Linked DNA regions of Homo sapiens. The protein of the gene in region 1 purifies or fractionates together with the protein of each later gene. This does not show direct contact. Each region holds a gene or a part of one and is shown on either strand. Other genes may lie near its edges.

What was found.
Region 2: the proteins of CST5 (region 1) and HAPLN3 purify together in Homo sapiens (co-immunoprecipitation; one large-scale study listed by IntAct). This does not show direct contact.
Region 3: the proteins of CST5 (region 1) and HS3ST1 purify together in Homo sapiens (affinity purification with mass spectrometry; one large-scale study listed by BioGRID and IntAct). This does not show direct contact.
Region 4: the proteins of CST5 (region 1) and ZER1 purify together in Homo sapiens (affinity purification with mass spectrometry; one large-scale study listed by BioGRID and IntAct). This does not show direct contact.
Region 5: the proteins of CST5 (region 1) and HKDC1 purify together in Homo sapiens (affinity purification with mass spectrometry; one large-scale study listed by BioGRID and IntAct). This does not show direct contact.
Region 6: the proteins of CST5 (region 1) and BTD purify together in Homo sapiens (affinity purification with mass spectrometry; one large-scale study listed by BioGRID and IntAct). This does not show direct contact.
Region 7: the proteins of CST5 (region 1) and BTBD1 purify together in Homo sapiens (affinity purification with mass spectrometry; one large-scale study listed by BioGRID and IntAct). This does not show direct contact.

What each region holds. Positions count from the first base shown.
Region 1 is NC_000020.11:23,876,949-23,881,171, reverse strand, and holds the start of CST5 (cystatin-D precursor), read left to right. Parts: upstream 1-1,423; 5' UTR 1,424-1,495; coding exon 1,496-1,726; intron 1,727-3,553; coding exon 3,554-3,667; intron 3,668-4,223.
Region 2 is NC_000015.10:88,889,045-88,892,544, reverse strand, and holds part of HAPLN3 (hyaluronan and proteoglycan link protein 3 isoform 2 precursor), read left to right. Parts: intron 1-3,164; exon of another isoform or gene 3,165-3,500. UniProt on the Homo sapiens protein: May function in hyaluronic acid binding.
Region 3 is NC_000004.12:11,392,650-11,395,272, reverse strand, and holds the end of HS3ST1 (heparan sulfate glucosamine 3-O-sulfotransferase 1 precursor), read left to right. Parts: 3' UTR 1-2,123; downstream 2,124-2,623. UniProt on the Homo sapiens protein: Sulfotransferase that utilizes 3'-phospho-5'-adenylyl sulfate (PAPS) to catalyze the transfer of a sulfo group to position 3 of glucosamine residues in heparan. Catalyzes the rate limiting step in the biosynthesis of heparan sulfate (HSact).
Region 4 is NC_000009.12:128,765,428-128,768,927, forward strand, and holds part of ZER1 (protein zer-1 homolog), read right to left. Parts: intron 1-3,500. UniProt on the Homo sapiens protein: Serves as substrate adapter subunit in the E3 ubiquitin ligase complex ZYG11B-CUL2-Elongin BC. Acts to target substrates bearing N-terminal degrons for proteasomal degradation with the first four residues of substrates being the key recognition elements.
Region 5 is NC_000010.11:69,226,832-69,230,331, reverse strand, and holds part of HKDC1 (hexokinase HKDC1), read right to left. Parts: intron 3,126-3,500; coding exon 2,963-3,125; intron 1-2,962. UniProt on the Homo sapiens protein: Catalyzes the phosphorylation of hexose to hexose 6-phosphate, although at very low level compared to other hexokinases. Has low glucose phosphorylating activity compared to other hexokinases. Involved in glucose homeostasis and hepatic lipid accumulation.
Region 6 is NC_000003.12:15,632,745-15,636,244, forward strand, and holds part of BTD (biotinidase isoform 1 precursor), read left to right. Parts: exon of another isoform or gene 1-122; intron 123-2,679; 5' UTR 2,680-2,695; coding exon 2,696-2,944; intron 2,945-3,500. UniProt on the Homo sapiens protein: Catalytic release of biotin from biocytin, the product of biotin-dependent carboxylases degradation.
Region 7 is NC_000015.10:83,057,253-83,060,752, reverse strand, and holds part of BTBD1 (BTB/POZ domain-containing protein 1), read left to right. Parts: intron 1-3,500.

The DNA.
Region 1 (4,223 bases):
ATTTTATTGTGTGTAAATTCTACCTCATTCAATGTAATTTTTAAAATATTACATGAGTTTTCCAAGCAGTGTACAGAGGACCAGTGCTGGCAGCACGTCTCCCAGAGGGGAGGAGCAAGAGAGGCTCTTGGGCTCCCACATTCATCCTGTGGCTGCTGCTCCTTCTCCTGACACCCCCACCACCTGCCAGGGGTCTCCCTGCGCCTTCCACCTGGACACACCCACAGTTACCGTGAGACTCCAGGTCGTTCCCTTCCCTGCTCACACCCCCTCCAGGAGCTTCCTCTTCCTGGAGCAGGCATGCCCAGCCTTGCCTCAGGGCCTTTGCACTGACTATTCCCTGCTGCCTGGGGCTTCTCAACCTTTCCGGTCTCTTAGAGACTTCCCTGACCAGGGTCCAGTAGCACCCACCCTCTCTCTAACTGAGCGACTATAATTCCCTGATCTAAATTGTTGATCACCACTCTGCATCCTCCCACACACCCTAATGGCTGGGCTATGCAGTACCACAGCCACCAGCAGCCACTCGTGGCCACAGGGCACTTGAAATGGGGCTAGTCCACAGTGACGCTTGGTCTAACTGTAAAAAATACACAGGGAACTTCAAGACATTACACTCACACAAAAGAATGTAAACTAGCTCCTTAAGAATAGTCCTGAAGTGTTGAAGTATTTTGGATATATTAGGTTAAAGTAGAAATACCAAAATTACTTTCAGCTGTATCTTTTAACTTTTTCAAATGTGTTTTAAATTGCTCCTGGGTTTCTGTCACATCTCTGTTGGATGGCAGCTCTGCAAGTTCATGTCTACGGCTCTATTGCCCAGACTGCTTGGTGCAGGGGGAAGCTGGTGACAGGTTTGTTTATTGAATAATGAGGAGTTATGAAACGAGAACCCAGTGAACTTTACCCAAAGGTTAATTACTTTATGTTTGGCAAAGAAGTTCCCCAGAAGAGGGCATGGACAAGGTCATCCCGGAGCTTCTGAAACAGCTCCCTGCCCCAGGAATTCCCAGACCATGACCACGTGCTCCTGGATGCCCCTGACATCTGAAGACTTTAGAAGGCCAAGCCCTGTATTTCTCCCTTTCCTGTGGACATAGGTGGTCACCAGGTTTCACAGCCCAGGGAGCGGTGTCACCTCTCTGGAATCCAGAGTGAGCCAAGCTTTAGAGCACTGAGGAAGAGGGGCAGGGCTGTGGGGAGGTTGCGGTCAGGACAGGAGTGGGGAGGAGGATGAGGAGGAGGCATGGGAGGAGCGAAGGGAACTTAGGGAGGGAGGGAGGTGGTTGGGGGTGGAAAGGGAGATAGAGACAGAAGAGGAGGGGTAGAAAGAGGAGGAGGAGCCAGGGGCGGGGCCAGGGAGCAGGTGGGGTTGGGGGACACCCAAGTAGGATAAATGCACAGCTAGCTTCTGGCCTGGGCTTCCTGCCTCAGCCTTCTGCTGCTTTGCTCTCTGGGAGATCCAGCTCCTTGCTCTGTGTCCCAGTAGAACATGATGTGGCCCATGCACACCCCACTGCTGCTGCTGACTGCCTTGATGGTGGCCGTGGCCGGGAGTGCCTCGGCCCAATCTAGGACCTTGGCAGGTGGCATCCATGCCACAGACCTCAATGACAAGAGTGTGCAGTGTGCCCTGGACTTTGCCATCAGCGAGTACAACAAGGTCATTAATAAGGATGAGTACTACAGCCGCCCTCTGCAGGTGATGGCTGCCTACCAGCAGGTGCGTGCTACCACCACCCTGGGGGTCCTGAGTCCCAGCTGGGTTTTTTGCCTCACCCCCCAGAGCACTCCCAGCAAATCAACATTATCTAAACCGCAGACTCATTCAGCTTTCTCTGACTGTCTGCTGATGGTCTTCATGCCCTAGGACACTCCTTGGCCGTGAGTGCATGAGTTCAGCCCTGTCCTGTCCCCTCGGCCTCTTTTAACCTGCAGCAGCCACTGTGTCTGTACCATGACTGTGGCATTTCCCAGGGTCCAGCAGGTGTGGATGGAGACTGTGCTGACTCTGGGTGGGCTTGATGCTGCTCAGGATGAGATCCAGGCCACGAGGTTCATCTTCCTCCCTGAGTCCTCTCCACAGGGGCCACACGGGAACCTGACTCCTTGTCCTGGATAGCCCCGCTTCCCTCCCAAGTCACGCCCCTGGGCACAGCCCGTTATGGCTAGTGGCCTTCACTCTCAGGCTGGCTGACCACCCCCTACAGCCCAGGACAGCTGAGTTCCTGCTGGGGTAGAGCATGCCTGACCCTGCCTCTGCCAGCTAACGCAGAGTTAGACCTCAGCAAAATGAGGACAGCAATCACCCAGCAGAGTGAAGGAGGTGGTTGGGTCCAGAGGGAGGAAGCTTCAGCAGGGCTACCGAGCCCAGCTTGACCTACGTCCCATGGCAGAGCAGCAGTGACACAGCGACCACAGGGCTATATGGCCTGCCAGCCTTTAGAGCTCCTCCACCTTCTCTTGGAAAGTCAGAGGAGTCCAGACCAGCCCTGTTTCTCCTCCTGCAGCCCTCTCCCTGCACAGGAGGGGCATTCCCTGGTGCTGTGGTCCCTGCTGGCCTGCACTCCCTCTTAAGTGTGTCACTCACTGGGAGTGAAGCACAGAATGATGTAGATCGTTGGGCCCTGGAGCCTATTTTACAGAGCAGCAGACTGACACCGGAGGGATCACAGGACTTCCATGTGGTTCTACAGGACTTGTGTGTGGTTCCACAGGGCAAGGTCTAGCACCCTGGTCCCAGGGTCCCTCATCCCATGCTTCTCCACAGTTCTGACAAGTCATGTTTTGGGGCGGCACTGTGCAGGGAAAGCATTCAGTTCTCTTCTGAAGTTGCAACCCTAAGACATGCAGGTGTGTGACTCACTTTAGAAATATTGCCTTGAAAATCACACCTGGAATGGAGGCATGCAGGAGGCAATGTTTATTGGCCTAAAACATCAATGTATGTGAGCATCTCATCTCCTACTGAGAAATGAGGAAAAATACCTCTGGGTTAAATGGCAGGAATGAGATGCTCTGTGGACTGAATGCCAGGAGCTGGAAGTTAGCTGAAATTTCATCATCAGGTGGCAGCCTTCCTAGGATGGGACCAGTGTCCCTGCCCCCTGAGCACAGGTAGCAGAATTCAGTTAATCCTTTGCTGTGGGAAAGAGCATTCACTTGGTGCTTAGACCCTGCCCTGCAAGCCTGGTGCCAGGACTGTTTCTTTGTCCCACCCTGGCTGGTTCCCCAGAGCTGTGCCTTCTGTTCCTGAATCCAGTGAAGGGGGTTTTAGGCCCTGGCTTCCATCTGCCCTGCCCCTGCTTCTCTTTCTACTGGGCTGCATGAGACAGCTTGCTTGAGATACCCAGAGAAAACAAGTTACTAGGAAGGACTGGGACACACTACCACTGCCAGCCAGCAGGAGAAGGTGGCTTGTGTGCCTTTTGGGTGACAGTGTGGGCATGAAGCCCCAGGCAAGCCCAGTGACTCAGTCACAGTGAAGTGCCTGCGTGTGCATGAAACTGACAGCATGCTGCCCCTGCTTCCTGCTCTTCCACGCGTGTAGATCGTGGGTGGGGTGAACTACTACTTCAATGTGAAGTTCGGTCGAACCACATGCACCAAGTCCCAGCCCAACTTGGACAACTGTCCCTTCAATGACCAGCCAAAACTGAAAGAGGTATGTGCCTGATGTGGGTCAGGGGCATCAAGTACCGCAGAGCAGTGTGTGCATGTGTGTGTGTGTATGTGTGTGTGCACGCATCTGTACTCCTGCACATGCTTTGGAGGGCATGTGTGCATGTGTGCAGATATTTGTGGGGCCACGTATGCAAGGATGTATTCATGTGCATGGGAGGATGCATGTGTGTTTGGCACACATGTGCAGATGTGTATTGTGAAGTCAATGAATGTGTTTGTGCATATGGAGTTTTGTGTATGCATGAATGAATGTGTGGGATGGTGTACACATGTGGCTATGCATGTAGAAAGATGCATATGTGTGCATACATGAGGAAGATGCACAGGAGTGTGTGTGTGCATGTGTGTGGATGTGTGAAGGAGTATGTGGGTTCATGCATATATTCGTTTGGGTGAGGGTTGCTGTGAGTTAATATAGATGCCTATGTGTGTGCAGATGGAGTGGTGTGGATAGGGGTGATGAATTTGTTTTGCTAGGAAGACTTTAGCTTGGTAATGGTTACTGGGAGGTCAACTCTGCCTGCTTTGGGGTGTTG
Region 2 (3,500 bases), on another chromosome or scaffold:
ATGGCCAGCTTCCTCCTGGCCTTTTGTTCTTGGGCACAGGGCTGATCTTTTCTTATAATTCCTTTTGTTTTTCTTTTCTTTTTTTTTTGAGATGCAGTTTCACTCTGTCGCCCAGGCTGGAGTGCAAAGGTGTGATCTCGGCTCACTGCAACCTCTGCCTCCCAGGTTCAAGCAATTCTCCTGCCTCAGCCTCTGGAGTAGCTGGGATTACAGGCACCCACCACCACACCCATCTATTTTTTATATTTTTAGTAGAGACGGGGTTTTACCATGTTGGCCAAGCTGGTCTCAAACTCCTGACCTCAGGTGATCTACCCTCCTTGGCCTCCAAAGTGCTGGGATAACAGGTGTAAGCCACTGTGCCCAGCTAATTCCTTTTGATTTTCTTGGCATCCCCCTCAATGTGAGGTTACATTACTGCTGAGTTAGCATCCAACAAAGAGGTGTTACTGATGTCACTTAGTGGCAGAAACGCCTGCATTTGTTTACCCTTAGGAAGCCCTTTCTCACTAGGGAGCATTTGTGCTAGATGAGCCGCTGTAAGAGGCTGGAAACATTATAAGCAGCAGCTGGGAGCCCCTCTGCTCAAGGAGACTCTAGGTGCCCAGGGACAGCGGGGAGCCCAGGACATCAAGCTCAACATCAAATCTTGGCCCCACTTCCCTCCTGGTTCCAGGTGTGGAGCCTGAAGGAAGGCAGAGGAAACGAACTCTTACAAGGGTTTGCTCTGGGCCACTGGGCTGTGTGTGCCACACAATCACCTCCCTGAATTTGGCATGGTTCCAGGCTTTGGGGCTGGAGTGGGTTCGAATCCTAGCTCTGCCACTTCCTAGCTGGATGACCTTGGGCATATGACTTAGTCTCTCTGTGCCTTGGTTTTTCCATCTGCAAAATGGGAACACTACTAGGCTCACATGTCAGGGTAGTGGTAAGGATTACATGAGAGATACCAGGTGTGGTGGCTCATGCCTGTAATACCAGCACTTTGGGAGGCGGAGGCGGGCAGAACAATTAAGCCCAGGAGTTTGAGACCAGCCTGGGCAACATGGTGAAACCCCATCTCTACTAGAAATACAAAGAATTAGCTGGGTGTGGTGGCACACACCTGTAATCCCAGCTACTTGGGAGGCTGAGGCAGGAGATTCATTTGAACCCAGGAGGCAGAGGTTGCTATGAGCCGAGATCTTACCACTGCACTCCAGCCTGGGCGACAGAGTGAGACTTGGCCTCAAAACAAAAACAAAAATAAAATAAATGAGAGAGTAAGTGCTCAGCTGTTAATACTTTTATACTGATCATAGTAATGCTGTGGTGTGTGTATTTGTTAGGACAAGTGAGGCTAAGCTGTGTTGACAAAGAGATGCAGGCCGGGTGCAGTGGCTCACGCCTGTAATCCCAGCACTTTGGGAGGCCGAGGTGGGCAGATCACCTGAGGTCAGGAGTTCAAGACTAGCTTGGCCAACATGGCGAAACCCCGTCTCTACTAAAAAATTACAAAAATTAGCCTGGTGTGGTGGCAGGTGCCTGTAATCTCAGCTACTCAGGAGGCTGAGGCAGGAAGAATTGCTTGAATCTGGGAGCAGAAGTTGCAGTGAGCCGAGATTGCACCATTGCACTCCAGCCTGGGCGACAGAGTGAGACTTAGTCTCAAAAAAAAAAAGATGCAAAAAAGTGGTGGCTTAAATATGATAGGACTCTGTTTCTCTCTCATAGGACAGTGCAAGTGGAGGAGGTCCAGGGCTGATGGGCAGCTCTGCCATTCAATCTGTGGTTTCCATCTCTGACTCTAAGCTGGATACTGTGGTTTCCAGAAGGTTGGGGGAAGGAATACCAGGGAAAGGCATCTGTAATTGTTTTAACTGCCAGACCTGGATGTGGCATGTTATTTCTGCTTGCTGCCATTGATGAGAACTGAGTCACATAGCTCTCCTAGCTGCGAGGGAGGCTGGAAATGCAGTCTTCAGCTGAACGGTCGTGCACCCATCTAGACCTCTGTTACTTTAGGAGAAAACTAGAATGCATTGGCGAGAAATATACCAGGGTGAGTTTTATGATCTCCATTTCGCAACCGAGGAAACTTGCCCAGAATCTCGCAGTGAATAAATAGTAGAGGTGGGATTTGAACTCTGATCTTCCAGTTCCCAAACTCTGTACCAGGTTGCCCCATTGTGCTTAGGCCTCCCAGTTCTCCATCACCAAGGGGGCTTACAGGAATCAACAGGGGAATGAATTCCTCTTGGACAAGAAGTGGGGTTTCAGAGTTGGTAGTGTCCTGGCTGCAGTGCACAGCACAGATGGCAGGTCTGGGCCTTGGGATTTCTGTGGTGTCTAAGGGAATGGTGGATTTGGCCTCTCAACTTTCTTTACATCCATTCTCTCCAGCAAGAGCTCCTAACTGTTCTGGAAACAAGAATGTTTCCTCCACAATCCCATCACTCTAACAAGCCAATGCTGTGTGTGTCTGCCTGCCTCCTTTCCTCCCTCCTTCCCTTTCCTTCCTTCCTTCCTTTCCTTCCTTCCTCCCCTTCCTCCCTCCCTCCCTCCCTCCCTCCCTTCCTTCTTTCCTTCCTTCCTTTCTCCCTTCTGTCCTCCCTCCCTTCCTCTTTAAGTGTTTCCTCATCTTCTGGGTCCTGTACACAGGCATTCACAAGACCACATGGTTGCAATCATAGCAGAGGCAATTGTATGTTCTGCTTTGTCTATTTTAACTTACACCCTAAGCATTCTTCCACGTTGCTACATGATAATCATAGTTATGTTTGCAGCTGCCTGCTGTCATTCTGGTCTTGCTGCCCCCAGGTCTACCTTCCACTCAGCCCCTGCAGGGAAGTGTCTTAAGATGTGAGTCTGATCCTGTGACTTCTCTGCTTAAAGCCATCACTGGCCTCCAGGACAAAGGATAGACTTCTGGCCAGGTGTGGTGGCTCATGCCTGTAATCCCAGCACTTTGGGAGGCCGAGGTGGGCGGATCACTCGAGGCGAGGAGTTCGAGACCAGCCTGGCTAACATGGTGAAACCCCGTCTCTACAAAAAATACAAAAATTAATGGGGCATGTTGGCGCATGCCTGTAATCCCAGCTACTCGGGAGGCTGAGGCATGAGAATCACTTGAACCCAGGAGACGGAGGTTGCAGTGAGCTCAGATCTTGCCACGGCACTCCAGCTTGGACAACAGAGTGAGATTCTATCTTTAAAAAAAAACAAAACAGGATATGCTTCTGGGCCTGACACCCAAGGCATCCAGACGCTGGCCCTGGTGACCCCCTTACCTCCTCTCCCCCATGCAGCCAGGGTCTTGGCAGGAAGCAGAATTCAGCCCAGATGATTCCAATAAAGAGACTTTAATGGAGGAATGACTTCTAGAGAGTAGGGTGAGGGGACCCAACAAGGAAGTGGGGGACGCAGAGGCCAGCAGCAGCAGCAGACACTCTATGGCAGAGGCACTGGGGTGGCAAGGGAGCTGGGAAGCAATGCCCCGTCTTCCTCCTCTTCCCTCTCTG
Region 3 (2,623 bases), on another chromosome or scaffold:
CAGAGGTCGCATGTCAGGGCAGGTCACTTAACTTGTGGGCCACAGAGACCCTGACCTTCCTGTGGGAAGGCTTCATGGAGGAATTGCCATAAAGCTGGGGCACGCACGAATGGCAGTAGTGTCACCAGAGCAGGGCATTCTGAACAAGGGAAGCTTGAGACATGAAGACAGTGGTCACGGGGAGAGGCTGGGGGTAGAGGGTAGAGGTAGGCAAGAGATTTGTCTGAGTGGCATGTCAAATGTGTTAAACTCAATGAGAAGCTACTGCTTTCCAAGGCTGGAGTGTTGGAAGCTTACTTAGCAGGCACCCATGTGAATTTGGCTCCTGTGCAGGTGTATCTGTTGCATAAAAATAGCTATCATTTGTTGCACACCTGCCATGTGCTTGGTATTTTAAATATATTGCTTCTAACCTATATAACAACCCTAGGAAGTAGAAAATGGGCTACTAATTTTACAGAAAAATAAACTCAGAAATTAAAGGGCTTGCCCATGTTGATAGAGCCATTACTTCTTACAAATGAAATTTTGTCTCCGATGTCTCTGCTCCTTTTCAGTCCATCTATTTGTGGGTAAGTGGAGGAAGATATAAAGCATATGCATCTGTCTATTAGGCAGAGCCTGTAAGGGAAATTATGGGCATCTAGGATTTGGAGTTGGACAGTTAGGGTGATATCAAGATTACCTTCAAGCAAAGCAGTGGCTGGGATTTGATGCAACAGGGACGTGATAAAACATGCTCCTAACCGGCAGCAGCTCATTTCGGAAGACTGAGCCTGAGTTAAAGGCCAGAGCAACATAACAGAGTTCTCCAAACAGCACACAGTGAGAGAAGGCCAAAGCTAAAGAGGACATCATCGGATTTAGCTGCTTCACTAAAGTGTTTTGATGTAGAAAATGACCTTGGTGCTTTAGTTATCCCTGATGTCAAGACCTTTACTCTATTTTGCCCAAATTTCTCAGTTAGATAACAGCAAAGAGAGAGAGCCAGAAGACCTGGGTGTGCATCCTAGCTGTACCAATCACTGACCATGGGATCTTAGATTCAGACTCTGAGAACCTCCATTTCCTTCTCCATAAAAATGGGCAGATATGTACTGTACTCTGTTGGGGGAAAACTCCAACTCAATGAGATAAAGTAGGTAAAAACTATAAACCCAGTGCATATGTTACTTAGTGGTTAAAAACATTTGGGACTTTAGGAGACAGACCAAAACTGGTTTTGAACCAGTCGGCAGAAATGCGCTGCCTTTTTTCCTCCTCTGCTTCCCAGCTATGTGACTGTAGCTATTGCTGTTAATGCTCCATCCAGAGCTCATTTACCAGGGAAGTGCTCTCAACCCCAGCTGCCACAAAGATTGTCTTCTGTACTATTTTCTGAAGGATTTCTCTTAGTTGGCAGGAGTTTTCTTACCTGAAGATGCCTGAGAAATGTTGTCCACCCCACTCCCCTGCTTTCCTAGGGTTAGGGCATGACTAATGATTGACTGACCCATGTGGGATGGGGCATGGGGGTAGTAGGGTAACAGTCCACCCTCATTGCCTCCAGGCAGGACAACCTCTGGTGCAACTCATGCTCAGAGCTCCTCGTGAGATCAGGCTGAGGCTAGACTTCTCCTGAAACTGTACTTTTACTTATTTCTTCCGAAACTTCATCCTTTTCCCACATTACCTTACTCATTTCTTCTGCTACCCTATTCTCAGTAAATGTGTTTCCCAAGAAAACAGGAATCCCCCCTCAGACTTTGCTTCTAGACCATCCACTCTAAAGTCTTAACCTTGCATGCATGTTTTCTTCTCTCTGTATTTTACATGTATAACGTGATCAACCCACGGAGTTATTAGAATTCTTCCAATTAAATGAGATATAGCAGAGAATGAGTCTATTTTATTGGCTAGCAAATAGCAAAGTGTTAAATTCAATAATGGCTGAAATTGTTACCAAGTAGTAGGCTCTTTTATTAGCTTATCGGACTACCAAAATAGTATAATGCATCAATATCAAACTTAAATTTCAACTTCATAAAACAATTCTGGGCCCAACAAATATGAAGGTATTGCTCCATCTTATGTAGCAACATCTTGTATTTCTATTGTTTGATAAATATTCCACTTAGAACTAATACATGGATGTCTCTTTCTTTTGATTGCAACCCTCTGGCACTTAACACAGTGCCTGGTACATGGTAAGTAAGGAGTATTAATACTTGTTTGTGGATTGAAGGGTAACTCTAGACTAGTTGTCAGTTTTACGCGAAAGCCCCTTCTACCACATCGCAGCCTCATGATCTGGCCCGCCTCCTGGAAGTAGCCTTTCTGGCCCAGACACTGGTAGGTACTTTAAAATAAGCTGTTTTATGTAATCTTCACAAACCTCAGGGGAAATAATCAATTCAAGCTTCCTGTGTTTGTTTACCATTAGATCCACATCAAATAGTAACCATACTTGACATAGGAGCTATAAATATTTATTAATCGAACAGATCACCCTAATACCCAAGCTCTTTTCACTATGCCTTACTATATGACCTCTTCTTGAATATTGAACCAATGAATAGTTCTCCAAGGTAACCCATTATATCTCCAAACTGGCTATTGAAATTCATACTTACTGTACCTCGAC
Region 4 (3,500 bases), on another chromosome or scaffold:
AAGCTTGCCTGAGATCACAAAACTGATGAGAGTGGGATGCAAACCTAAAGCAGACCCCCGCTTCTCACCAAATATTTGGTCTTCAGTCCATCCATCCAAACAATGGGAGGGAAAGAGAAACTGAAGTCTGGAGGTGGGAGCATGGGATCCCACCAGTGTCCTGATACCCAGAGGACAGAGAGGTTGGGGGAGCCAGAAGCTCTGAGCCTTGGAGCAGTACTCACCCTGTGAAATATTAACCTAGGAGCTGGGGGGAAAACCCAAACAAATGCCCTATTTACAGAGGCTAGACGCTTTCCAGGAGGCAGCAGATCAAGGGCCAGAGACTGGGGGTGTGAGGGGAGTCACAGCAAGTGTGGGGATCTCCAGGTGGTCGGGAAACAGGTGAAAACCAGACGCCACCTGGCTCTGAAAAGTCTGCAGAGATTAAATCTATGAGTTGGGTTATGTCAGAAAGATGCAGACACACAATAATTGGGGAGTGTGCCTCACAGCTAGGTGGCTGCTCATGATGCTGGAGACAGAGAGGCCTTGAGGAGGCTGCATTCGGCTAGTAATCAGACTGGTTGGGTTCTATTCTTGTAACCAAATGTATTAATGATCCTACCCATACTGAATACCAAGTATATACCAAGAATTCTGGCTGGGCGTGGAGGCTCACGCCTCTAATCCCAGCACTTTGGGAGGCCAAGGCGGGCGGATCACGAGGTGAAGAGATTGAGACCATCCTGGCCAACATGGTGAAACCCTGTCTCTACTAAAAATACAAAAATTAGCAGGGCGTGGTGGCGGGCGCCTATAGTCCCAGCTACTCAGGAGGCTGAGACAGGAGAATTGCTTGAACCCGGGAGGTGGAGGTTCCAGTGAGCCAAGATTGCACCACTGTACTCCAGCCTGGCAACAGAGCAAGATTCCATCTCAAAAAAAAAAAAAAAAAAAGAACTCTGTTAAGTATTTTATATGTGTTAATTAATTGAATTCTCTCAACACCCAACAAGGCAGGAGTTACCATCTACAACTTACAGAAAAGGCAGCTGGAAGGAAGGGGCTATGGCTATGCAATTTGCCAGAGACTATGGATCTGAACAGACAGATATGTACACAGGTAGTTCATTAGTTCAAGACGCAGTGTGTCAGGCTGGGCACAGTGGCCTACGCCTGTAATCCCAGCACTTTGGGAGGCCAAGGCAGGTGGATCACCTGAGGTCAGGAGTTCGAGCCCAGCCTGGCCAACATGGTGAAACTCCATCTCTATTAAAAATACAAAAATTAGCCAGGCATGGTGGCGGATGCCTGTAATCCCAGCTACTTAGGAGGCTGAAGCAGGAGAATCGCTTGAACCTAGGAGGCAGAGGTTGCAGTGAGCCGAGATTGCACCACTGCACTCCTGCCTGGGTGACAGAGCAAGATTCCGTCTCAAAAAAAAAAAAAAAAAAAAAAAGACCCAGTGTGTCCAGCTTTCCAAGCAGTTCGCATCAAAGTCACAGATAACTTATTTATTTATTTATTTATTTTTCTTTCTTTTTTTTTTTGAGATGGAATTTTGCTCTTGTTGCCCAAGCTGGAGTGCAATGGCACAATCTCGGCTCACTGCAGCCTCTGCCTCCTGGGTTCAGGCAATTCTCCTGCCTCAGCCAACCAAGTAGCTGGGATTACAGGTGCCCGCCACCATGCCAGGCTAATTTTTGTATTTTTAGTAGAGACAGGGTTTTGCCATGTTGGCCAGGCTGGTCTCGAACTCCTGACCTCAGGTGATCCACCTGCCTCGGCCTCCCAAAGTGCTGGGATTACAGGTGTGAGCCACTGCGGTCGGCCTATTTATTTATTTTTCTTTTAAGAGACAGGGTCTCACTCTGTCACCCAGGCTGGAGTGCAGTGGTACGATCTCAGCTCGCTGCAACCTCCACCTCTCACGTTCAAGCAATCTCCCACCTCAGCCTCTGGAGTAGCTGTGACTACAGACGTATACCAACAGACCTGGCTAATTTTTTTATTTTTTGTAGCGATGAGGGCTCACCATGTTGCCCAGGCTTGTCTCAAACTCCTGGGCTCAAGCAATACGCCCACCTCAGCCTCCCAAAGTGCTGGATTACAGGTGTGAGCCACCGCACCCAGCTGCCACAGATAACATTTTATCAATATGATAATACATTATCATTTTGTTTCCCAGATAAGGAAACAATGGTTGAAAGATGAGCAATGAGTTGTTCCTCCGGTAAGTGTGTGACCCTAAAGTTCGAGCCCCTTGCCATTATGCTATGGGGAGGGACCATTTCTCCAACCTCAGCTTTCCCTTCTGTTCCACGAGCCTCCGCCGCTTCCTTACAACTCAGGCACTGAGCTCACATGATCCAGTACTGCTGGTAACCACTCCGTGGCATGTCATTTTTTGGCCACAGCATTGAAAGCTTCCTGAGGGCAGGGACCCTATGTGATTTCTGGGGTCTCCATTACAGAGTATGTGAGTGGCTCAATGCCAGTGACAGGGCCTCGGCTCCACAAGATCCCCAGCCAATGTTTTCCAGCCTCAATATTTATCAAGGTCCTTACCTGTCAGCATGTTGCGAGTGGCACACGCTGTGTTGCGCGTGTTGTGAACAGGGTTGCTGAGGAGATGCCATGAAAGGATGGCAGGAAGGTGGTAACCAATAATTATGAAGAGTGATGTTCCTGAGAATAATGCTTCAAGAGACCCTTCTGCATCTCTGAAGCTGGAAAATCAGTTTCAGCGATTGCGCCAGATATAAGACAGTGGTCCACAAATAGATAACCAGACAGGGGTCTCTGCACTCACCTCTCAGGACTCCAGAACAGATGAGGTACTGAAGCCAAGCAAAAAAACCAGAGTGCCAAGAGCAGTCTTCCAGCTAGTGGGCCCCCAAAACGTGTCTGCATAATCCTAGTGGTACTAATGATAATACCTTTGTAGAGAGCTTCAGAACACACCTAATTCTTTCACAAGCTGTGTCTCATTTCATCCTCCCAACAGCCTTTAGAGTTAGTCGGAGGCAAGGGAAGGCCATTATTCTTAATCTACAAATAGGAAAACTGAGGCCCAGAGAGGAGATGGAACCTGCCTAACTCACACAGCAAGCCAACAGCAGAGCCGGGATTTGAACCAGGTCCGCAGGTCACCAGCCTGGGGTTCTACCCACAACAGCCTACCCCAACATGCTGGCTCTCAGCTCCTAAGTGCTCTGACCTTTCATTTTCAAATTCTCTGGCCCAGTTGCCCTGCTCAGCCTGTGTCCCAGGCCTGAGGATATAGTCCGGGCTTGGGGTATAAGGAGGGAGATCAACTGTGGTTCTGCTTCCTATAAAGCAGGCTGGAAAGTCTCAGCCTCTGCCGGGCACTTCCGGATCACCAGCCTCTACCCGTAGATCAGCCACGCACACTCCAACCACATATCTAGGCCCAGCATACACTGCCCCTCCCCACCTGTCTCCAAGTCACATTCATTTCAACACCCTCATTTTGCCTATTTTACGTGGTAGAATGG
Region 5 (3,500 bases), on another chromosome or scaffold:
CCCCCAAGGCCTATTTGGCCTTGGAGGCTGACTGGAGGCTAAGGCCTGGAACAGAGCCAGCAGGGGTCAAGCCAAAGAATCACAGTCACCCTCATGCTTCCCATGCCCCTTCCATGACTGGCAGAGAAGGCTCCAGTATTAACACAGCACTTTTAAGGCACTTGATCCTGTCAGAACAGACCACTGCAGCCCCCTGACCAAAAGGCTGGGTGGTAACTAAGGCTCAAACAGGTGACTCCCTCGCAGATAGGTCCTGATGGGAGTAGGCAAACTCAGGACTTCTCTGGAAGCTGCATACATTTCTGAAACGGACACCATAAGGAATTAGGAGAGTTTTGCTTGTTTTTTGTCGGTAATCATGAAATTATACCACCAGCTCACAAGAGCTAGGAGGACTTGGGACAAGATTTTAGAGATGTTAAAGCACGCCATCCACATGATCTCATTAAATCCTGACAATCATGTATGGTGCCGGGATTTACCAAGAACACCTGGCTTATTAGGGACTCTGGGCCCAGGGACCTCGGCACAACAGAATCACTGGTGAGATGCTTTGTGTGGTGAGAGGCTCTGCGGAGACGGGGATGGGGAGCTGGGCGTCTTCCCGGCTAAGGAGGAGAGAGTTTCTATGACTTAGTTAGTTTCACTTCTGAACCTTCAGAAGCAGCCAGGGCCAGGAGGACACCGCCTGTCCCAGAGCCTCCAGACCATCAAAGGCCACCTTCCCTTGCTTCTGGGGACACACCTTGTCTGTATCAGGAGGAGGGGCTGCAGTCCAGGAAGCCAGGCGGACTTAGCCCTGGTGCTCCCCACATGACTCAGCTGCTTCCTCCCAGGGGCCCCAGATGCCCTGTCAAGGACACGTCCCAGTACTCTCGTCAAGCTGTGGCAAGGACAGAGCCAAGATTTCAAAGTAGGGCTGTCTCTCTCCGAAGCTCAACGTCCTTCCAGGACAGGGCACTGTCCATCCCAAGCACCTACCCACAAGTGAGGGCACAGGGCCTTTCCCAGTGCAGTGTCCCAGGGCCTCTCAACCAGCAGAGCCAAGCTACCTTGATCCAGGCATTGCTCCAGAGAGGTCCAGAACACGACTGATCCCATCAAAGCCCCCTGAGAGCTCCCAAACCTCAGACCCTGCTCCTGCGAGAGCCCCAGTGCTCTTTCACGAGCTCGGTTTGGGCACTGGGACCCTGACATGGGAGAAACCCCTTGGTCCTTGGTGGTTCTGTCTGAACAGCCACACCACAGGGTTGTCACAGGAAATATGTGGCTCAGCGAGTCCCCAGCACCCCATGACCACAGTGGTTGCTCAGTAAATGGCAGCTTTCTCTCTTTCTTTCTTTCTTTTTCTTTGCTTTCTTTCTTTCTTCTTTCTCTTTCTTTCTTTCTCTTTCTTCTTTCTTTCCTTTCTTTCTTCTTTCTCTCTCTTTCTTTCTTTCTTTCTTCTTCCTTTCTTTCTTTCTTTTTTGATGGCGTCTCGCTCTGTCACCCAGGCTGGAGTGCAGTGGCGCAATCTCGGCTCACTGCAACCTCTGCCTTGCAGGTTCAAGTGATTCTCCTGCCTCAGCCTCCCGAGTAGCTGGGATTACAGGTGCATGCCATCACACCTGGCTAATTGTTGTATTTTTAGTAGAGGTGGAGTTTCACCATGTTGGCCAGGCTGGTCTCGAGCATCTGACCTCAAGTGATCTGCCCCCCTCGGCCTCCCAAAGTTCTGGGATTACAGGCGTGAGCCACCACTCCAGGCCAGTAGCAGCCCTTTTCCCTCTTACAGCTTCATTCAGAGGCTGAGAATGGAAGAGTTGGATGGGACCTCATAGATCCTATCTACAGATTTCTAGGCCATTGTAGGCAAAATAATGTCCCCCACCCCCAACAAAGATGCTCACATCCTAATCCCCAGATCCTGTGAATATCTGAGGGTGCAAGGCAAAGGGGAATTAAGGTTGCAGATGGGATCAAAATTGCTCATCAGCTGACCTTGAAGTTGGGAGATTATCCTGGATTATCTAAGCATGACTAACGTGATCACAGGATCTTTAAATGTTGAAAGGAGGCAGAAGGTCAGGTCAGAGAGGGACCTGAAGAGGCTACACTGCTGGCTTTGAGAACAGAAAGGGGCATGCCTCAAGGATGCAGGTGGCCTCTCGAAACTGGAAAAGTTAAGGAAACAGATTCTCCCCTCAAGCTTCCAGAAGGAACGCAGCCCTGCCGACACCTGAATTTTGGCCCAGTGAGACCCACTGCAAACTTCCGTCCACCAGAACTGTCAGAGAATATATTCGATTGTTTTCAGCCACTGTGATTGTAGTAATACATCACAGCAGCCATAGGAAACAGATACATAGGCCATTTCTCATTCTACAGCTGGGCAAACTGAGGCTAAACACTTGCCTCAGGTCACTGAGAGTGACAGAGCTGGGCCTCAGACCCAGGTTTGTTGAATTATCATTGAATGTGATTTCCACTACATCATTCTTGCTCCCATTACTCATTCCCAGTGCTACACTAGGTGCTGGGAACACTGTGGTAAGACCTTGGACCCACGGAGTGAGTGGTTAATTTGGTGGAGACTCAGAGTGGGGACACAGCAAAGTGACAAGTGCCCTGACAAGCACCCAGCCCAGCACAGGGATACTTCCTAGATGGAGGCAGGGACCACTACGCTGAGACGGAAAAGCCACGTTGATACTCACCAGGGAAGAACATGGAGATGCTCCAGGAGGAGAGGGAGCAAATGTGTGAGGCCACGATGGGCAGAGAAGCCACGGTGCCTGGGGCTGCAGAACTGCAGAACTGCAAGAGGGATTCAGCAGGACTGAAGCAGAGAGGGGCAGGGAGGGTGGGACAGCAGAGAGAGGGCTAGAGAGAGAAGCCAAGGTACAGGGGCAAACCTTAGGTACTTTAGACACCCATCAGCCAAGAGGAGCCAGGGACCCTGGCAGCGGACAACTGCACTCACCGGAACCATCGGGAATGGCCCTGACGAAGGTGGGCAACATCTTCACTGCAGCCGTGGGGTTGGTGTCCTTTGCCAGGCCCTTCTCCATCTCAGCCCGGAACCGCCTCATGATGTCCAAAAGGGTGTCATCGGAGAGCCGCATGTGATACAGGAACCTGTCCACCTGGAACAGACACCGGCCACCAAGGGGTGCTGCTGGGGGCCCTCACCCTCCAGTCGAGGCTGTAACCCCCGACATCCCTCAGCAAGCTGCATTCCTGACTCTGGGGACAGCATTGAGATGTGGATTCCCAAAGCCTCCCTATCTGACCCCTCCTCAGGCAGAGGACAGGGAAGCGAGTTAGGAAAGCAGAATGGAACGGAGGGCTGAGAAGGTGTGGAGTTACTTCTCTGAAGGGCAGAATCTGAGGAGAAAATGATTCTCCCATTATTCTGATGAGACAAGGGAGAGGCAGAAACTAAGAAGGATTCAGGGTTTCCGATTCCCAGTTCAGGGCCCTCACCAGTGTCCCATTCCTCTCCACCAAAAAAGGCCAGC
Region 6 (3,500 bases), on another chromosome or scaffold:
ATGCCTGGGCCCCTCCAGCCCTACCTCTAGTCCTGCCACTTTACAACTGAGCACCTCCCGCTGCTGCCTGCTGAACCCTTCAGAGTCCTTGCCACAGGCCCTATTTACTTTTTCCTGAGAAGGTATGTGTGATGCCAAAGAGAGAAAAGCAGCATTTGCTAATTTGGGTAAAATGTTTCTTTGGGAAGGGCAAATTGATGTACAGTTGTCCCTCAGTATCTGTTGGGACTGGTTCCAGGACCCCGTGGATACCGAAACCCTCAGATGCTCAAGTCCCTTATATCAAATGGTGTAGAATTTACATGTAACCTAAACACTTCCTCCTGTACACTTTAAATCATCTCTAGATCCCTTACACTACCTAATACAAACTAAATGCTATATAAATAATTGTTATACTGTATTTTTTAAATTGCTATTATTTTTTATTGTTGTGCTATTATTTTTATTGGGCTCCCTCCTCCCCCTCCCACCCCAGTAATTTCAATCCAAGGTTGGTGGAATCCATGGATGCAGAAACAATGGATACTGAGGGCCGGCTGACTAGACCTATTTTTATTGTAATTACTCATTCTCTTCTACCTCATTAAGCTTGGTTCTTTCAAGCATGAATACCTGGTTGAATCTGCATAACCTCTTATTATCGACCTACCTTTGTTCACACACAAATGATTGCCACTTAGAGCTCTCCTACCGGGCTCCTTTTGTAAAATAAATTTTATCTTCTCCAGATAGAAAGAAATGTGATACCTTGCGGATTTTGCGGTTTCCTTGTTTTGCTGGATTGCAAGTCCTTTAGACATAAACAAATGTTCTGTACCCCGACATCGGTGGTACCCAGCTCTCAGTTGAGAAAGAGATGTAATGTGAATGCCACTCTTGGCCCCAGGCACTCCTCACTTGCCCCCACTGGGGACTGGTTCATACCCTCCTCTCCTGGCCTCAGTTTCCATACCTCTTAGTGAGGCCTTTGCGTTATACTTCAGAAATATTGTCAGTATGACTTTGAAGATGAAAGTTTGCCCCCAAAATCACTCTCTGTTATCATTGTGAAACCAGAGATGGAATGGAAAAATGGGTTTCTGAGACATTTTAAATTATTCCTTGCTTGTCTTTAGAGGCAAAATTCAGATAAGAAAGCTTATCAATTATACTTTTGTTTCTACTCAAAAACTCATGACTGCTCACTCAAAGACTCCTTGTTCTTATCTTAAAACATTGTTTACAGTGTCCCAGATGAATGGCAACAAATCCTGGGGTTTGGTGTTTGGATGGTACATTTCCCTGGGGAAAGAAATAACAGTTTGAGATGGAACCGGGTTGGGGTGGGAGAATACTTCTCATTCTGAGGAATATTTAATTTTGCCAAGATGAGCATTTCTAGTTCTTAGTCTGTTGACGAAAAGAGCTATGGTTTGTTTCTGGAACTTTTGATAAAAAATAAAGAAATTTGTAGCCTGGGGAGTTTGGTTTTAAAATGCAAACACAGGAGTTATGAGTTGAGACTTGGACAGGGTGTCATTTTCTTTTTAAAGGGCAGCAATATGATTCTTTGATTTGTCTTTGTTATCTTGACTTTTAATCCGGATTCCTGGGCAGTTGTTCAGCCCCAGGACATCTCCATGGGCAGGTGGCCTGGCCTTGGCACACTACCCAGTAAATCTCTGCCTGAGAGGACGCTTTAGCTGGGAGGCCAGGCTGATTTTTAAAGGCAGAATTGGACTATTTACTCTAAAACAGTAATGCACACTGTTTAGAAAGAAACATTCCTATTCTGGGAGGAAGGAGGAGACACACAGAAGTATCATTTATTTCTAGTCTTTTCTGGTAGAAGCTATGAAGCTGAGTTTACTCTCTGGAAATTTGTAGTTTATTTTCTAGAAAATTGCATTTTATCACTGCAAAAAGGATTTTATTTCCAAATGAGTAGGCTTTTGAGCAAGAGTTTTGGAGTCACAGAGATGGGGTTAAGAAAGTGATAATGTGCAATGGCGATTCTCAAGTTCAAGGAGAAAAAATAACATGCTTTTATTGGGATACTTTGCTTGTCTATAAAAGAAAGTAGCTATTGGCATTTATGTAGAAGTCAGCAGTTTCTTGGCACCAAATAAATAATTTTGTGCTGAATAAAGGGAGAGTTATCCATAGTATTTATTACTAACCAAAGAAATGCAGGGAGAATTGTAATTCATTAGGTTTTGATGGCCAGGAAAGCCAAGCTGTGTTATTAGGGTCATGACAATCACAGACATTACGGATGGCTGACCTGTAGTATGGATAGAGGGCAGAGGGTAGAGTGTGAAATATATCACAGAATTATGTCAAATAATCTGGATAGTTACTACTGCTTAAAATCTAAGTGCACAGCTAGAAAAGTGGGTAGTGACGCACTACAGTCTTGCTGAACACTGGGTAAGAAAATCATAGCAAACGTTGAGTCTGTTTTGGAAATGTTCTAAAACCAGACTATTAACACAGTGAGCCATTTTAAATGTGGCTTGCTACGTGTTTGGAGAGAAACACATACTCTTTTATTAGGAACATGAAACAAACTCTTTGAGCCGCAGTATCACTGCGAGTGAGTTTAATTGCTGGGATTAATAAATCACAGCTGCAAACGTTAAATTCTTGGCAGGATTCTTTATTCAGCTGTTTTCCCCTTGCCCCATTACATTCCAGATTTGTGGTCTGCATTATGTCTGGAGCCAGAAGTAAGCTTGCTCTTTTCCTCTGCGGCTGTTACGTGGTTGCCCTGGGAGCCCACACCGGGGAGGAGAGCGTGGCTGACCATCACGAGGCTGAATATTATGTGGCTGCCGTGTATGAGCATCCATCCATCCTGAGTCTGAACCCTCTGGCTCTCATCAGCCGCCAAGAGGCCTTGGAGCTCATGAACCAGAACCTTGACATCTATGAACAGCAAGTGATGACTGCAGCCCAAAAGGCAAGAATGCTCCTCGGAACCTGAGTTTCTCTCATACAGAGCAGATTGCTCTTTACCCCTTGATCAGTGGTTGGGTAATCCCAGGCTTCCTACCACCCTCTGAAAAAGCATCCAGGTAGTTAACCTGAGTTGAGTTAGTCAGTTGAATTAGGAGCCTTACCCCTCAGAGAGTGGTCCGTGGACCGGCATCCCCTGGGAGCTTGTTAGAAATACAAAATCTTGGGCGGCACCCCAGACCTACTGAATCAGAATGTGCATTGCAGCAGGATCCCCAGGTGATGCTTTCACATGGCAAGTATGAGAAGCCCAGGACTAGATCCCCAGTTCTCAAGTGTGGTTGTACATAAGAATCACGAGGTAAGTGGTAAACACTATGGCTGCCCGGGTCCTGGAGAGTCCGTTGTAATTGGTGTGGAAGGGGTGTGGACTGGCACTGGGATTGTTTTAAGGCTCCCCAGTGCAGTCTAATGTGCAGAAAAATTTGAAGATGACTGGGCGTGATGACCTCTCTGAGTCATTCGAAGCTTCACTGAAGTAGTAAGCATCTGCAAGAATG
Region 7 (3,500 bases), on another chromosome or scaffold:
GGCGCGATCTTGGCTTACCCAATCTCCGCTTGCTGGGTTCAAGCAATTCTCCTGGCTTAGCCTCCCGAATAGCTGGGATTACAGGTGTGTGCCACCACGCCTGGCTAATTTTTGTATTTTTAGTAGAGATGGGGTTTTACCATATTGGCCAGGCTGGTCTCAAACTCCTGACCCCAGGTGATCCGCCTGCCTCGGCCTCCCAAAGTGCTGGGATTACAGGTGTGAGCTACCGTGCCCGGCTTTAAATTTTTAGTTAGATTAAATATAACCTAAGTTGTTTTTTTTTTTTTTTGAAAATTATTAATTTGGGGGGAAAATAGGACTAATTTGAGGACATGTAATAATTTTTCTGTGCTCTCGTCCTTAGAGGTTGTATATGAGAGCTTAAATGATCACTTTAAAATACGAAGAATTGTGGTAATGTCATGTTTAATCTTTACATTTTAAAAACCTTGGCTTAGTTTTTTTTTAAATATTATAAAAACTCTAATAATTAAATAGAATGTAAAGGAAATGTATACATATGAATCAAGAGGATTCTTGGATTTTTAAGTAACTTTTTTTATTAGAAATGAAAATATTTTCCCTTTTGACGTTACATAGAAACCTGTGCTGAATTGTCTAGTCAATTAACGTGTATTTATTGAGACTTAAACACATGCCCATAATGTGCCTGGTACTGTTTAAGAAATAAATTAAAAATATAAGATACACAGAGATCCTTTTCTTACTGTTTATTGTCCAGTATTTATTTTTAATTTGCAGTGCACCCAAAAGAACTTAAAATGTCTTATAAGAAACACAAGGGTAAGAAATAAACTAGAGTCAAGGGTGAAGCTAATAGAAAAATGTATGCTGTCAAGCTGGGTACAGTGGCTCAGGCCTATAATCCCAGCACTTGGGGAGGCTGAGGCGGGAGGATTGCTTGAGGCCAGGAGTTTGAAACTAGCCTGGGAAATATAGCAAGACCTGTCTCTACAAAAACATAAAGCATAAAAAAAAATGAGCTGAGCCTAGTGGCATGTGCCTGTAGTGTTAGTTACTCTGGAGGCTGAAGCAGGAGATTCACCTGAGCCCAGGAATTTCAGGATACAGTGAGCTATGATCGTGCCACCACTCTCCACCCGGAGTGACAATGAGACCCTGTCTCAAAAACAAACAAAATGTATAAGCTATAAACTTTTGTTGTTGTTGTTGTTGTTGTTTTTGAGACGGAGTCTTGCTCTGTCGCCCAGGCTGGAGTACAATGGCGTGATCTCAGCTAACTGCAACCCCTGCTGCCCGGGTTCAAGTGATTCTCCTGCCTCAGCCTCCTGAGTAGCTGGGATTACAGGCGCCCGCCACCATGCCGGCTAATTTTTGTGTTTTTAGTAGAGTCGGGGTTTCACCAGGTTGGGCAGGCTGATCTTGAACTCCTGACCTCAGGTGATCCACCTGCCTTTGCCTCCCAAAGTGCTGGGATTACAGGCGTGAGCCACCATGCCCGGCCAACTTTGTTTTAATTATCTGAGCAGCTAGTGCAAAAAGAGAAACCTGGGTGGACGTAATTATTTATAGATTAAAAACAAGGCAACTGCTTAGGAGATGCACAAATCTGATAATTAGATGAGTTTTTAAAAAAATCCTGATGAGATCCCCTCATACAGAAGACATTGCTGTAATGAAGTGTCTTCAGTCTGTGTCTTCAGATACATACTTGTTTTAAAAAATGTTCCTTGATAGAAAGCAAAAGTATATTACTGAAGTATAATTTGATAAAAGCAATTTGAATGGGAGATCTCACACAAAATAATCTACAAACTTGATTCTCTCTTGTTCCTGGAGTGTACTTCCCACCGTCCTTTTAATCTTTAGATCTAATCTCAAGCAGAAATTTCTCTACAAACCTTTTCCACATCTTCCTAAGTCAAAGCCCGCATTTATAGATTCTCATAGAACCATGTATAGGTTTGCGGCACTTGTCCTGTTAAGTGTGAATCTAATCAAGGGCAAATGGTGATAAAGGCCTCACATTGCTGCTCTGTTTTACAACTCTAGTAATTTTTACCTGACAAAAATACATCAAGGCAGGCATGTAAAGACTTCTAGACTGCTACCTTGTCCTTCAAACAAAAATTTCTTTTTTTTTTTAATTAAAAAAAAATTTTTTTAAGTCTCACTTTGTTGGCCGGGCTAGAGTGCAGTGTTGCGATCTCCGCTCCCTGCAGCCTCCACCTCCCAGATTCAAGTGAGTCTCCTGCCTCAACCTCCCAGATAGCTGGGATGACAGGCATGAGCCACCGTGCCTGGCCTAAAACAAAAATTTCATAGTTTTCTAGTTTAAGAAGGGAATTGAGCATGCTGTTAGCATTCTCTCTCTCTCAATTAAAATGACTATTAAGAAATTTTTAAAAAATAGTAAGTCCATTACAATGAAGAGAAAAAGAGAGGTTGGAAGGGCCAACAGAGTAGAAAGGGACAGAGAAGTTGGAAGCTGATTGATGGATGAACTAGAGTAGATGAATCTGGAGCCCAGAATCCAGAGCTTTCAAAGCCGCAGCGGAGCTGGAGCGCCTTTCCTGGCAGAACCCCAACAAAGTTCTTGGCTAGCAGTTGGAAGTAAGGAGGGTGGAAATGAGAAGGTAGTGCTAAAACATGGAAATTAATTTAAAGCCTGTGTATAGACCATCCCCTTAGCCAGCTGTCCATGACAATGGACAGGCTTTTTGAGATAAATTGAACAAACTGCCTGAGAAGAACTGGGACTGCTGGGTATGGCTTTGGGACCCCAGGGTTAAGCTCTCTTCCAATGGCTTTGAGGGGTCCCTGCCCTAGGGCTGGCTTCCCACTCTAATGCCAGGTGCCAGTCAGCAAGCCTCCCACATACACAGAGCTCCCAGCCAACATTTCTGTTTTGGAGATAGTATTATCTTGAAAACAGACCAGCTGCTTAGAATAGTGAAGTTGGAGACGGAGTTTAATCATCTGACATATAAGGAAAAGCAGAACGTGAATGACAGAGACCAAGAGAAACACAACAGCGGATCCTCAAGGAAACAGACGAGAACTTTTAAAACTTTGGTTAATGTCATCTTGGAGACTTCAGAAAGTTTTTGCGTTCATAAAACCAGCACATGGTGCTGTGGAGAAAAAAGGAACGATCAAGAAAGAAGCAAGCATTCTTAGAAATTTAAATGTGATTGCTGTAGAGAAAAATAGGAAGGCACCAGAAGATAATGGCAAGGAAATCTTCCAAAATGCAGAGGGAAATAATGATAAAAAATATGAGACAACATACAGATAAATAGCTAATATTTACTGAGGCAATTTTTTTTGTCAGGCGTTATTCAAAATGCTTTGTGTTTTAATTTATGTTAATCCTCACAACCACATTATGAAGTAGGTGCTCTTATTCTCATCTTTTTAGAGAGGCAGGCATTGATAATAAGTCACATGGCTAGCAAGTGACAAAACAAGCTCAAACCCAAGCAGTCTATTTCCTCTTGGCCTTACTGTATGGC